Linked DNA regions of Homo sapiens. The protein of the gene in region 1 interacts with the protein of each later gene in a pairwise test. Each region holds a gene or a part of one and is shown in the gene's direction. Other genes may lie near its edges.

The links.
Region 2: the proteins of EBAG9 (region 1) and STX2 interact in binary tests that used the Homo sapiens proteins (3 or more experiments, as listed by UniProt).

What each region holds. Positions count from the first base shown.
Region 1 is NC_000008.11:109,536,327-109,543,189, forward strand, and holds the start of EBAG9 (receptor-binding cancer antigen expressed on SiSo cells), read left to right. Parts: upstream 1-3,846; 5' UTR 3,847-4,135; exon of another isoform or gene 4,136-4,399; intron 4,400-6,863. Other genes in the region: EBAG9UORF (uncharacterized protein LOC139907707), read left to right, coding at 3,400-3,474. UniProt on the Homo sapiens protein: May participate in suppression of cell proliferation and induces apoptotic cell death through activation of interleukin-1-beta converting enzyme (ICE)-like proteases.
Region 2 is NC_000012.12:130,794,248-130,801,275, reverse strand, and holds part of STX2 (syntaxin-2), read left to right. Parts: coding exon 1-123; intron 124-2,085; exon of another isoform or gene 2,086-2,108; intron 2,109-2,640; coding exon 2,641-2,751; coding exon of another isoform or gene 2,752-2,775; exon of another isoform or gene 2,776-2,886; intron 2,887-3,361; coding exon of another isoform or gene 3,362-3,433; exon of another isoform or gene 3,434-3,516; intron 3,517-5,155; coding exon 5,156-5,236; 3' UTR 5,237-5,281; intron 5,282-7,028.

The sequences.
Region 1 (6,863 bases):
TGTTCAAGGTCAAAGTCACGATGTCCATCATGCTGTAGCTCAATGAATGAGTCTCACATTGTTTCATGTTGTTTTATTTCTACTTTCTCAATCCATGTACAAGATAGATTTACAAACTACTGTTTTATGTTGGTTGTATGAATTTCAATACATTTACTGTTAGAAATAACAAAAGGTCTTAGACTGCCAGATGCTGTTCCCATCAACTCTACTTAATTCATAATATAGCTGAACTCTGTCATAAATCTAATAACGATGTGGACATTAGCCAGAAGTATGATGTGGCTGAACCTCACCACTGAACACAAAATGAGAATTCACCTCATCTTTTCATTTGAATTTATTTCTACTAAAATATATGTATTATTTTTCTTGATTTCTAACCAGGCCCCTTCTGAAGAAAACTGGTTAACTCTAAATTGTTACTAAATTTTGAATCTTCCTGTATTTAGCAATAAAAGTTACTGCTAATTGTAATAACAATTATGAGGAAAAATTTATTTAAATGCTTCATAGAAAGTTAATTTTCATTTAATAGAAAAGAAATAAAAAATCTGCTTCAGACTGTTTGATTTCTCTATTAGGCAATTGACCCTAACTAGTATATGGTGATTTTGAGTATTAAAAAAGAAGTTATAATTTTCCAGAATATTAATGTTTATTATTTTGAAAGCAAGTAAAATTCTCCAGTAGGAAGATTAATAAAACAATTCATTAAAATTCTCATCAGAAAATCCTATGCTTTCAAATGTATCTGCTCAAAGATGTCACTCTATGTGCGGCAAAGCTTTGTTTTACTTGATCAAGAAATGAATGTGACTTTATGATCTTGTATTCAACTGTGAACAGCTGCTCATTAATAAAAAGCCATTAAAGTCCAAGTCAGAACAGCAGGTCTAAAATTGTGTTTGAGGGAAAAAAAACCCACCCTTTGATGAAAAGCCAGGGAACTGGGTTGGGAAAGATCTGGAAGCAGAGGGCTGTGTTTGCAGTCTGCTCCTACCTCCTGGGCCAGGTCAGGTGACAAGGCCAGAGTTAGCCCCAGCTGGAGAAGTCAGAACAAAGCCTATGTAGGCTTTGAAAGGGGAGAGTAAGTGGTGGGCTGGAGGTTGATAGTGTGAATAAATCAAGCTGGTAATTGGGCAGAGGCTGATCAGAAGCGTTAAAGTGAGCAAAATGGTTTGGACACAGAGCAGACAGAATTTACTATATTCCATTGAGTAAAAGAAATTCATATGCCAGGTTCTATCCCTTATGTTCCTCCCATTTGACATCTGGTGGTTTCCTACCCCCGTCCCACACAAGCTTTGGGGAGAGGACAGGACTTAAAGTTCCCTGTTCCCAAGAGGTGGTCCCTAAACCCAATCCCAAATTATTGACTTGTGATCCCAATTATGGGCTTACTATTTAACAAGTAAAGATGATTTTAAAATATTATTTTATAGGTATTACTAAAGTAAATTTTAAATTTGCAGTCTTTAGCGAGCTTTGTTTTCTGTTTTGCTATTGTGTTGGGAAACAAGTACTCAGTAACTAGCTGTTTCTGGAAAAGTATATACATTTCGTTTTGTTTCATTTGGAAATGGCAAATTTAATAAAGAAAACTGAAGAATCAGGAAAAAGAAGAAAATATCCTTGGGCATAATAAATTGTCTAAAGCAATCAACTCTTTAAGAAAAAAAATTTAAACACGTTTATATCCGAATATAGGTTATTTTGGATTTTTTTTTTTTTTTTTTTTGAGTCAGGGTCCTGCTCTGTCTCCCAGGCTGGAGTGCAGGGCCCAATCATGGCTCACTGTAGTCTCGACCTCCCAGGCTCAGGTGATTCTTCCCACCTCAGCCTTCTGAGTAGCTGGGACTACAGGCATGCGCCACCAAACCTGGCTAATTTTTAAATTATTTGTAGAAACGGAGTTTCGCCCGTTGCCTGGGCTGGTCTTAAATTCCTGGGCTCAAGCGTTCCTCCTGCCTCGGCCTCCCAAAGTGCTGAGATTACAGGCATGAGTTACCGTGCCCAGCTAGATAACTCGATTTTTTAAATCCAAAAAAAATTTAGAAATTTTATATTGAAATTTAGGCATTAGAATTCTAGAGATTAAAGTTAGAGCAGGTGTTTAAGGGACTGAAAGGGGTTGCATGGCCTTTGGGAAATGCAATTACCGGAAATGATACTGTAGTAATGCAATAGTAATGCAGTAGTAGTAGTAGCTGCAGCAACAACTGTTATCTATGAATGTTTGCTATGTGCCAGGCTCTGTGCTAAGAGAGCTTTGCAAGCATTACTACTGCATGAAGTAGGCACTATTATGGCCATTTTACTGATGAGGAAATTGAGGTGAACAGATTAAATAATTTTACCCAACTTTACACAGAACCATTCCAGAGCACGAGCCATAAACACATCTTTCCCGTCTTGGAAATTAAATTATTAATAAAAAACGTGGTGCAAATTGGAAAGAGGACGGTTGTGGTAGATTATCACAAAGTTAAGTGGGTAGGTGGTTGCTGGGTCAGGGTGGGAGAACAAAGGCAGCTGTAATAAAAAAAAAAATTAAAGGCATATAAAGAAAAAGGCTTGTTGAGAACAATTTGCATAAACTGATTTTGGCCTTAGACCCTATTCACTTCTCCCTCACCAGTCACTTTGCAACTGTGGAGCATAGTATTCTGAGGGTCCCCTGCACATAACAACCCCTTTCATAGCATACAAGATAAAAAGAAGAATCAGGCTGCAAAGAGAGAAGCACTGAAGGAAAGAACATCTCAGGTTGAAAGAAGGGCAAGTCCAGGGTGCATGTGAGGAACAAATGCATGGACACGGTGAAGTGCCACTTCTTCATTTCTAGTTCAACACAATTCAATTAAAAATTACTGGGAGGAGGCTACGTCTTGAATTAAACTCAGCATTCCACATCTTTGAGGTGGCGGAATGACTGAGGGGAGGGGGTCTGTCTAGCCACATCCAAATCTTCCTGAGACAGAGGGAGATCCCTCATTTGTTGCAGTGTATTTTCCTTGGTCGCATCTGACACAGGGGTTCTGTGGGTTGAACAGAAAGGGACTTTGCTGGAGGGGAGGCACTCTGCATAGAAGGAAAGTAGGGACATCTGGCAGAAGCAGGCGCTCCGAGAATAAACAGTCAAAGCAGCTCGCAATAGTCCCAAAAAGCTACCCCTCACCGAACCTGGCGTGCCTGTCGCCGCTTGCCCCGCTCCCAGGGCTCATTGGCTCCCAGTCTCGACGTCAGACCCGTAGCCTCTCACCTATTGGGCCAGCCAGGACCTGAGGCGGAGTGCAGAAGCGAGGGCCTGGAGACAGCCGAGAGCCGCCTTCAAGGAGGGCTGGGGGCGGGGCTAGAGGAGGGGCTGGGGGCGGGTTTCCCGATGAAGGGGCGGCCATGGCAGCTGCGCAGAGGCAACGCAGGCTGCTACGGAGCGCGCGCCCGGCTTTGAATGAGCGGGGCTGGGAGTGAGCGGGCGGAGCGCGAGCTCGAGGAAGAGACAGGCAGCGCGCGTGAGCGCGCCTTGTGTGCGCGCGCGGCCCGCGGCAGCTCGGAGCCTCCGCCGGGCGGGCGGGGAGGGGGAGGGGCAGGTGAGTGTGTGCGGTTCGCGCGTGCCTGGGAGGGGCTTTCCTCTCCCTACCCCCATCCCGACCCCAGCCCTAGCCTCTGGGGCATTGTCTGCCCTTCGCCGTCGGCCCTCCGCCTAGCCGCGCACTTCCCGCCCTCCCACCTTCCTTTCGCCCTTCCACCAGACCTCCCTCGACGCCCGACAGCTGCTCTGGGTACTGTTTCCGGGTCAGGGTGACCTCTGGGGTGAGGAAACTGCGACTGGGAGCGGGACCCAGGCGTGCAGCATTCGCCATGCTCCGCTCACGCGTGGGAGACTGGGCTGTGGGGTACCGGCCCGGAAAGCACGCAGCCTCCAAAGCCGCCTTCCTCAGGGAAATTTGCGTGACCTTACTGCCCTCCGTCTACAGGCCTTGTACCTCTCCAGGCCGATTTTTCCACAATTTAAATCTCAGTTCACCTGGTATCCAGCTCCAGCAACTTAGAGCGTTTCACGTCACGCCGGGCGCCAGGCGTCGGCTTGTATAACCTGAAAACGCTCCTGTTTTTCTCATCTGTGCAGTGGGTATGATTTTTTTTTCATCAACAAATTTCACGTGGGTAATCTGAAATGAAACCACTTAAGTTATGAAACTCTTTCCTTTTGAGTTATTCTGGAGACCTTACTCCGCCTTCGGAACCGCCCCAGTGGTGTCACATACTTGAGGGCCTGACTCTCGGTTGCCAGACATGGCACAGAATGTTCGATTTTACTACCAGCTCTCACACTCCGCTTCTGTTTCCCCTTCTCTTACGGGCCGCTGCTCAAACCTTTATTTATCAAATTTAAGTGAGTTCAGGTAAATTTTATTTTGGGAGCTTTGTAATATTTTCTAACCCACTTCAGAGAGTTATAGTTTGAGGATATTCTGGACTGTACTAGATCATATGGTTTTCAAATTTTGGTATGAAAAGATTCGTAAATAGAGTTTTAGAAATACAGCACCTGTTTAGTATGTACCGAACATAGATTTTGGCTTTGCTTGTTTTGTGAATTGTGATGTATTGAGGCTACTTGAAAGGACCTCTAGCAGTTTACCGAGAATTTCAACAAGAAAAGATATAATACATTTGATCTATCAGTTTCTAATGTAGCATTCTTTTTTTAATTGTATTTTTTTTCCGTTAACATGGCAGAGCTCTCATTCTTGATTTCCTAGAGTTGTCATTTCTTCAAAAAGCCTTAATGAGGATACATTGCCTCATAGTTTTGAATCTCATTCTGATATACCTCAAATTTTTGTCTTTGTAATTTTTAAGGAAATTTAATGTTAAGATTAGATTATATTAACATTGTTCCGTTCTAGAAAGTGTTTTAAAGCAACTAAAGTGTAAAGTAGCGTAAGATACTTATCAAATTGGTGATCTAGAGGGCATTTCAAAAATCGCACTGAGGCAATGTGCACACAATTAAAAGGTTTCTTAAGTAGGATATGATGTAGGGAGAGCCTTGGGCTTTCGGGTCAGTCCCTTTAAATCCTGGGTAAGTGAATCTAAGTCTGTCAACCTCATCTATTAAACGGGAGTAGTGAAAAACCTACCTCTTTTGGTTGTCCTTAGGATTCCAGTGAGGTGATCGAACATTGTCTTGAGCGTTCAAGTGCTCAAGGAATGTTAGTTTCCTTCCATTCAACAAATATTTGAGTACCTACTATGTGCCCGGCTTTGACTGAGACCTATAAATACCAGAATGAGCAAGACTGATGGACGTCCTGCCTCCTTAGTTTCTTGCATTCCTCAGGGATAAGTTTATGGGCAAGCTCATGACAACTGGGAGTGAACGCAGAGTTTCCCCATGCGGAGTTGGTAGTATTTCCCAGCTTCCAAATCCAAAGTAGCGACTGAAACATAGTAGGTGCTAATATATATTCATTTAGATGAATAGGGACATTAAGTAAATACAGGTCTCAAAGGATATTCCTGCCTGCCAGTCAGTGTGATTGATAAAATCAAAGTGTGGCTTGATCGCATTTTCCCTATTTTAGTGCAACTGGTTGGAAAATTTATCTTGGAAGTGGTAGTATCACTGAATTATTAAGAATGTTCCTTGTTCATGAGATGTTCTTGGCTTTTGAATTAAATATACCTAGGTTTGAATGGAGTCACTGGATGTGCTTACTCTGTGTTTAATTCAATGAAACAAGGACAATAGTATCTATGTCATAAGATGGCTTTTTGAGTTGTGTGTTAACATTTTGATAGTGCATGGTTCATAGTAGACAGTCAATGAGTATCAGTTCTCCTCTTTTATTAATCACAAAAGGAAGTTTTCTGCAGAATGAGGATATTCTTGATTGCTAGGGAGAGAATTCTATTCTGTAATCACTAAAAGACCCAGTTTCTATTTTTTATTGGGAAAAAAAAAACAACCTTTAAATTTTACCTCCAGTTAGCATTGAAGTTATTCAAGTTGGCAAATATTTATAAAACAATGACACTAACAATATTTGGAAAGGTGATGGCTGTGGTTACTAGGGCAGTTTATGAAATTTATTCTCAACTTTTATTCATGTATATCCTAAAACTGACAGTCCCAAATGGTAAATATCATTTTTCTTCACAACATACTGATAGAGTATCTCCTTGATTCTATTTCCTTCCCTGCCAAGTACCACACGTTCTGTAGTCTCTTTTCTGGCTCTTTTTTCTTATAATTTTTCAGAAAATTTAGGCTAATTTTCATTTGAGAAAGTTTTCTTTTGATTGAGAGTTTTGTTCTTGACAAATCAGCTTTAAATGAAGTGATTGTTCACCATCATAATTTTTCAGATCATTCTACTCATAATGAAGCAATCAAACTTTTTTTTCAAGTCTTACTTTGCAAATGGTAACTGAAGGTACCAAATGAATAAAATACTCTAGAGAAGGGTTGTACAGGGCAAAGTAAGGTATAGAAATAACCATAATACAAAATAAAAAATGTTGTTTCTTGGGAAGAGTAAAATACTAGAATTAAGAAGACTTTACAGTACTCCAGCAAGAGGTAGTAAAGGCTTATGCTAGATAGATTACAGTGGAAATAGGAAAGAATATGGGCAGTACTGGGAAATTGAATAGGGTCTTTTTGGCAATTAGGTGTAAGGAGAAAGAAAGGAGGAGTCAGCATTGTTGCATGATTTGAACTTGAGTAAACCACTGGTTGGGATGTTTTTGACAGAAGTATTTAAATAACTCGAGTACAATTTTTAATATTCTGGTTCTTTTTTTTTTTTTTTTTTTTTTTTTTTTTTTAACAGTCACTGTTCTTTTCATCC
Region 2 (7,028 bases), on another chromosome or scaffold:
CAAATTACTAGACAAGCTCTCAATGAAATCGAGTCACGTCACAAGGACATCATGAAGCTGGAGACCAGCATCCGAGAGTTGCATGAGATGTTCATGGACATGGCTATGTTTGTGGAGACTCAGGTAGTTACAGACTCTTGCATTCTCCAAGAGAGATATCAGTCATGTGTAAAATCTTACTGCATCCCACTCTGTCTAGTGGATGTATCTAGGAAAGCTGTTATTTTGGATCCACCAAATTCAGGTTAATTGCAGTGTTATATGTGATGCTGAAATGCTGGAAGCAGCTTTAACAGTTGAACTGTTAACAGGAAGGGACTGGTTCAGTTGATTAAATTATGGAGTGTTCATAGGTCAGCCTTTTAGGCAACCATAGGCAACCTAAACTTTGTTCATGGAGAATTCTTACTGAAATATGCAGATGTTTGTGCTAGAATTAAGAGAAAAGGGAGATACAAAGATCTTCTGTGTATGCCCGTACATATGTATGAGTACATAAACACAAACACATGGCACGAGCTTGGCTCCATAAAACAGTATCCACAGAAGGAAAGGCGTATATCAAACAGTGTAATGGCAGTGAGACTATGGGAATTTTAATCTTCTCTAAAAGTATTTATTTTCAGATTTTCTATAAGAAGCATATATTACAGTAATAACTAGGAGAAATGTCTGAAAGAATCAACCCCAAGTGGGGATACAATCTATGACACAGATGCAAGCTTGTGCCTGTTACACGGGGTTTCCCATCTGCCCAGTAACACAGATAGGGAGTGAAAGCAGGTGTGGAAAGGCCCTTCTGAGTGAACCGAAGAGTTAATGCAATTCTTAATAAATAGAAAACTCCTCTGGGAGGCTGAGGTGGGAGGATTGTTTATGCCCATGAGTTCAAGGCTGTGGTGAGCTATGATCATGCCACTACACTCCAGCCTGGGTGACAGAGTGAGACCCTGTCTCCAAAAAAAAAAAAAAAAAATACACACATATATATGTATGTATGTATATATTGAACTCTCCATGTAAAGTACGGGATGGATCACAGATCACATGCTCTGTGATGTGCATGGGTATGTTCACACTCGCTCTTTGTCTTTGAATAAGGTCTTCTCGTTATTTTTCAAATACCATGGAGATAAGACTCTGTTGCTGGTTAGGATTCAGCTGACCACCAGGTGAAGCGGAAGCATTTATATCAAACCATCCTAAGTAAATGGTTTCCTCACTTGTCCTGAGCCTGGTTTCGGATCTGTTTTGGCTGGAGTCATCCCCTAAGTAGGTTCACATCTGATGGGCTTATTTTCTGAGACTGCCTGGATTGTGTAAGGATAGGAATCCATCCACACACAGGATTGTTCCTGCCTGCTTCAGCAACCTTGTTAAGAAACACTGTATTTTGAAGAACTTTATAATGAGAATGTGTGTGAAAAACTCAGGCACCATGCCTATTTTTTTTTTTTTTTTTGAGACAGGGTCTTGCTCTGTTGCCCAGGTTGGAGTGCAGTGGTACAATCTTGGCTCACTGCAACCTCTGCCTCCTGGGCTCAAGCAGTTCTCCTACCTCAGCCTCCCGAGTAGCTGGGACCACAGGTTTGCACCACTACGCCCGGCTAATGTTTGTATGTATAAGCATTTGCTAGAGGAAACCAACAGCTACACAGAGGGCAGGGATGGGACGATCTTACTCCTTTTTGATTTTGGGGGCCCCGTTGCCATTCATTATATGGTAAGTGGAGTGTGGGGAGTCTGATTACCATTGGTTACTTATTTCCAGGAAGCATTCCAAAGGAAACCAGCTGGACAGAAAGAACGAGAGATGATTTCTGTAATTACTAAAGCTTTTGTAGTACCTTAGACTTCAATTGTAATTGCTCTATACCAAATGCATTGCATTAAGCTCCGTTAGAAAAATGGCTGCATCCCTGGCTTTGTTTCACTGTTTCCTTTTAGAAGTCTGTTGGTATTGCATTATATTGACTCATCTAATGCAAATGTGTGCATAGTCAGAGATTACTAGTAAGTTGAAGTTTGTGACTGAGTGAGTTAACTCTCCGTCATTCTTCAATGCTTTACGATTCACTGCTGCAGGTTGTGTCTGGACAGACAACCAGGTAATACGTTACCTCCCTCACACTTTGCTGAATTCACCTCTGTTTACATTTTGCTCATTAATGTAGTCAGCTGAGTGTCAGATGTGAGCTATGCTCAGTTTACTGATTTAAAGAAGTAGTTACAATTTTCTACTTTGTGGAAAAGATGTCATTCTTTGTATATTGTCTGTCTGTGCATAATGGTAAAATACTAGTTCAACCAAAAGCTGGCTGCCTCCCTTCACCCTGCCCATCTGTCGAAAGTGTCTGCGTGTTAAAGGTATCTCAGAATTGACTTGAGGTGCCTTTAATTATCAACATGGTGGCCCATTCCTTTTCATTCTTTTTAAAATATAAATTGAGTTTTGATTGCTTTGCACTGGCACATGTATAATGGCCTCATCTTTTATCTTTCTGTAAATGTGAAAAAAACCCTCAGTATCCATTACATGCACATCGTGTTTATATAAAACCTTTGTTCTATGGTTGTCTTAAAGATACATGATTAAGCCATTTGAAAATGTCTTCTAAGTTTGAAACTTTTTGTTTTAAGGGTGAAATGATCAACAACATAGAAAGAAATGTTATGAATGCCACAGACTATGTAGAACACGCTAAAGAAGAAACAAAAAAAGCTATCAAATATCAGAGCAAGGCAAGAAGGGTGAGTTTGGCTTCGAAGAATTAAGCTGCGTTTTTCTCTTCATTTGGTTTCAAGTTGTAATACATTGATGTAAGCCTGCCTAAAAGGTATTCCAAGAAATAATTAATTAATAAATGTTTTATTTTAAAATGGAAATAATTTTTTTTGCTAAAAATTTAAAAGGTTTATTAGATGAATTATTTGTAGTTCATCTTTTGTGTTCTAAGTAATTGAAACCCTAGGGCTGGGTGTGGTGGCACGCCTGTAATCCCAGCACTTTTTTTTTTTTTTTTTTGAATTGGAGTTTCGCTCTTGTTGCCCAGGCTAGTAGAGTGCAATGGAGTGATCTTGGCTCACTGCAACCTCCACCTCCCGGGTTCAAGTGATTCTCCTGCCTCAGTCTCCTGAGTAGCAGGGATTACAGGCACCCGCCACCATGCCAGGCTAATTTTGTATTTTCAGTAGAGAGAGGGTTTCACCATGTTGGCCAGGCTGGTCTTGAACTCGTGACCTCAAGTGATCCGCCCATCTCGGCCTTCCAAAGTGCTGGGATTACAGGCGTGAGGCACGGTGCCTGGCACCAAATTGTTGGCTACACATTTGATGCAGTGAACATTTATTTTTAATTTAGGTTATTCGTGACTTCTTGGTTTGGAGGAAAGAAGAGAATTATTTGAGACCGTGGACCTGCAGTCTTAGGTAGCACCCACTTAAAGGGATCCTCAAAAGAAGGGAACCCCTTTCACTCAAGATGCACAGACTTTGCATTAAAAAGGGTTCAGGGAACCCTGTGTGATTTTTTTGTTACGGGGCAAAAATTTAAAACTTACTCTCCTAACTTAGGCATTTTATGATAGTGCCCCTGACACTGGAGAGATTATGGGTTTTTCACATTGTCACCTCCTTGTGCTAATACACAGAGATGCTGATTTTCACCGTGTTAGGAAAAAATGGAGTGAGACGGTGTGTGTGGATGCACCTCCAGGCGATGGCCCTGAGACGCACCCCCGGGCTGCAGGCTCAGCCGCCAGGGCACACCCTCACTCACACCCCCGGGCTGCAGGCTCAGCCGCCAGGGCACACCCTCCGCTTTTCCTGGGTATGTCTAAGTATGCTCGTCATCTCTGAAATGCCAGACATGGTTTCTCATGTTATTTCATTTATTGCTTTGAAAAAATTGGCCCCTAATGTAAACTGAGGTGAAGAGATACCTGTATAAAGTGCTTAACTTAGTTCCAGGCCTAAGTCAGCTTTCATTAAAAACAGGCAGTCCTGTTCCTTTTCTCCATGACCTGAACACGTCAGTCTGGTGAAAACGATAGTGAAAGTTCGTTGGTTTTACAAAGGGGGAAGGTGGTGGGTGTGATACGTTTTCATTCTCCTCTGTGGATGAGCAAGCCTGGCTCTGTGAGGTGCTTGGGGTCTGTGCGGTAGCTGGCGTATAAACTCGTCAGAGACGTGATGCCTGTTTCAGAAATGACACTGTCTTTTTGATGAGATGCCTGCTAATGGAACCCTCCTGGCTTGTCTCCCTGTCCCCTTGCCGCTCAAATGCTTTGCTGCTGCCCCTGGCTCAGGTGTGGGTCGTCCCCACTCCTAGTGTCCTGCATTTATTCCCGCGGAGCCATGTGGCCCTCAGAGGGAGGCCAGGCAACGTTTGTAGAAGGGTTTTTTTTTTCTGTGTGCTATGTCAGGAGCAGTGAAGAAGTAACTGCCAAGAACATAAAAGAAGGAGCGAAAGGCCAAGTACTGAGTGTGTCGGGGCTTCATGACGAGGCAGTGGGGCTCTCCGTCACTGAGCTAGCAGGCCCGCACCTCTGTACATGCGGAAAACTAACTGCATGTCTCAGTCATCAGAAATGTGGCAAAATGACTTGGTCGTGCTGTCCCCATGGATGAAACCTGAAATAACAGTTACATAGCAGCTTATCGCCAAGTAGTCTGACCTTATTAAGTCACTCTCTCAAGAAGTCGCCCAACAGTATTAAGCAGTGTCCTGTAACTTAGCTTCTAAAGTGAGTTCTGATGGGTTGTTTTGCTTTATTTTATTTTATTTTTTTGAGATGGAGTCTTGCTCTGTTGCCCAGGCTGGAGTGCAGTGACACGATCCTGGCTCTCTGCAACCTCTGCCTCCTGGGTTCAAGTGATTCTCCTGCCACAGCCTCCTGAGTAGCTGGGATTGCAGACCCACGCCCGGCTGGTTTTTGTATTTTTAGTAGAGACAGGGTTTCGCCATGTTGGCCAGGCTGGTCTCAAACTCCTGACCTCAGGTGATCCATCCGCCTCGGACTCCCAAAGTGCTGAGATTACAGGCGTGAGCCACCACACCTGGCCAGGTCGTTTTATTTTAAATGAAGGATGTCTTTTAATGTGGCAATATGAAATTAACCATGCATGATATAATCAGCTTGCTTTTCTTTGACAGAAAAAGTGGATAATTATTGCTGTGTCAGTGGTTCTGGTTGCCATAATCGCTCTAATTATTGGCTTGTCAGTTGGCAAATGATGGTGTGGATAACGTCAGTGTGCATGCCTCTCTGCCAGGGTGGGAGTAAGTAACTCATCAACTAATTTACTTATTAACTTTTGCAATTAACCAATAATAGTATTTGCTTAATTGTAATAGACATAAAACTAATAAAAGCTTGCCAGCCACGCAGTACAGATAATGCCATCTAGTGATACATCTGCCTGTGTGCTGATTCGAGTGCCCAGCCACTGTGTTTACTGAGAACAAGCACAGGCTGGGCGGTAACTCATTTTTAAACCAAGGTCACCTTCTTATCCCGTTTTTAAAAGTGTTTTTGAGACAGGGTCTAGCTGTGTCACCCAGGCTGGAATGCAGTGGCGTGATCATGGCTCACTGCAGCCTCGACCTCCTGGGCTAAAACTGTCCTCCTACCTCAGCCTCCCGAGTAGCTGGGACTACAGACGTGCACCAGCACACTCGGCTAATTTTTAAAAAAATTATTTTTAGTAGAGACGAGAACTCTCTGTATTGCCCAGGCTGGTCTCGAATTCCTGGCCCTCAGCCTCCCAAAGTGCTGGGATTATACATAGACATGAGCCACTGTACTCAGCCTGAATCTTTTGTTTTTGATCTAAGACCATTAGCTCTTTACATGTAGTGGATCCTTCATTAAATGTCATAGAAATTCAGTGAAGATTAATTCTCAGTTGTAATGTTTTGTCTCCTGAGTTTTAGCTTTTAGAGTAATTGCAACACTGAAAGGTACTTTATAAAATACACTAACGCATCATTTTACTATGGAATCGAGGGCATGGATGAACGCTGAGAAAAACATTGACTGAAAGGAACATCCTTCGACCTTTCTATAGGCAGCATCTATTTTATTTAAAAATATTTCCTTTAATATTAAAAGGAAAATTACGTATTATATTTAGTTAGCATGCCTGTTAATTCTTAAAGAATTCTGAATATAAAAGGTATCAGTTTATTTAAAGAATCAAGGTGTGAGTGTCACCTTTCCTAAACTTCAGCAGGCTTTGTGGTTTCCCCCTGGTTTTCTTCTGCATTGGGAGCCATCCTTGCACTGGCCCTGAAGTGGCAATGCTGTCGGTGTGTTACAGGTGGACACAGCAGTGATTTCTCTGTAAATGTTTGGCACAATTCTTGTATTAGACAGTTGTGAACTGTTCCCAGGTGTCTAGAGTGTGGCAAGTCATCCCCAATGAATTTATTCTTGGGTTATGGAAGTGACTGCAGACTTGATAGTCACCCAAGGCTTTTTAAAAAGTTAACATACAGCAGAAAGGAATCACGAGCATGGTTAAGTCTCACTATTGCTTTGTAATCTTTAAGATTTATTCCTTCAACATGGCAACACCCTGTCTCTACAGAAAAAAAAAAATCCAAAAACTAATTGGGCATGGTGGCACACGTGCCTATAGTCCCAGCTACGCCAGAGGCCGAGGCAGGAGGATCACCTGAGCCTGGGGAGGTCGAGGCTAGAGTGAGTCTAGATCGCACCACGGCACTCCAGCCTGGGTGACAGAGCGAGACCATCTCAAAACAAGAGATTGATATCTTAATGTGAGCATCTGTTACGCTCACCATGCAGTTACCAGATGAGAAGTTTTCCAGTTAGTCTTCTGACATTTATGCAAAAGCCACAAAATTACACCTGAAATTACTCTGTAAGGAGCTCTGGGATGCTGCGTGTGTTAACATTCCATTATTTGGCAGTCAGAACTCTCTTACCGTCTATTTTTATTAGGCAGGATGTTTGTGTAGGATGTTTATTAGGCAAGATGTTCTATTTTTTTCTTCTTAGCTT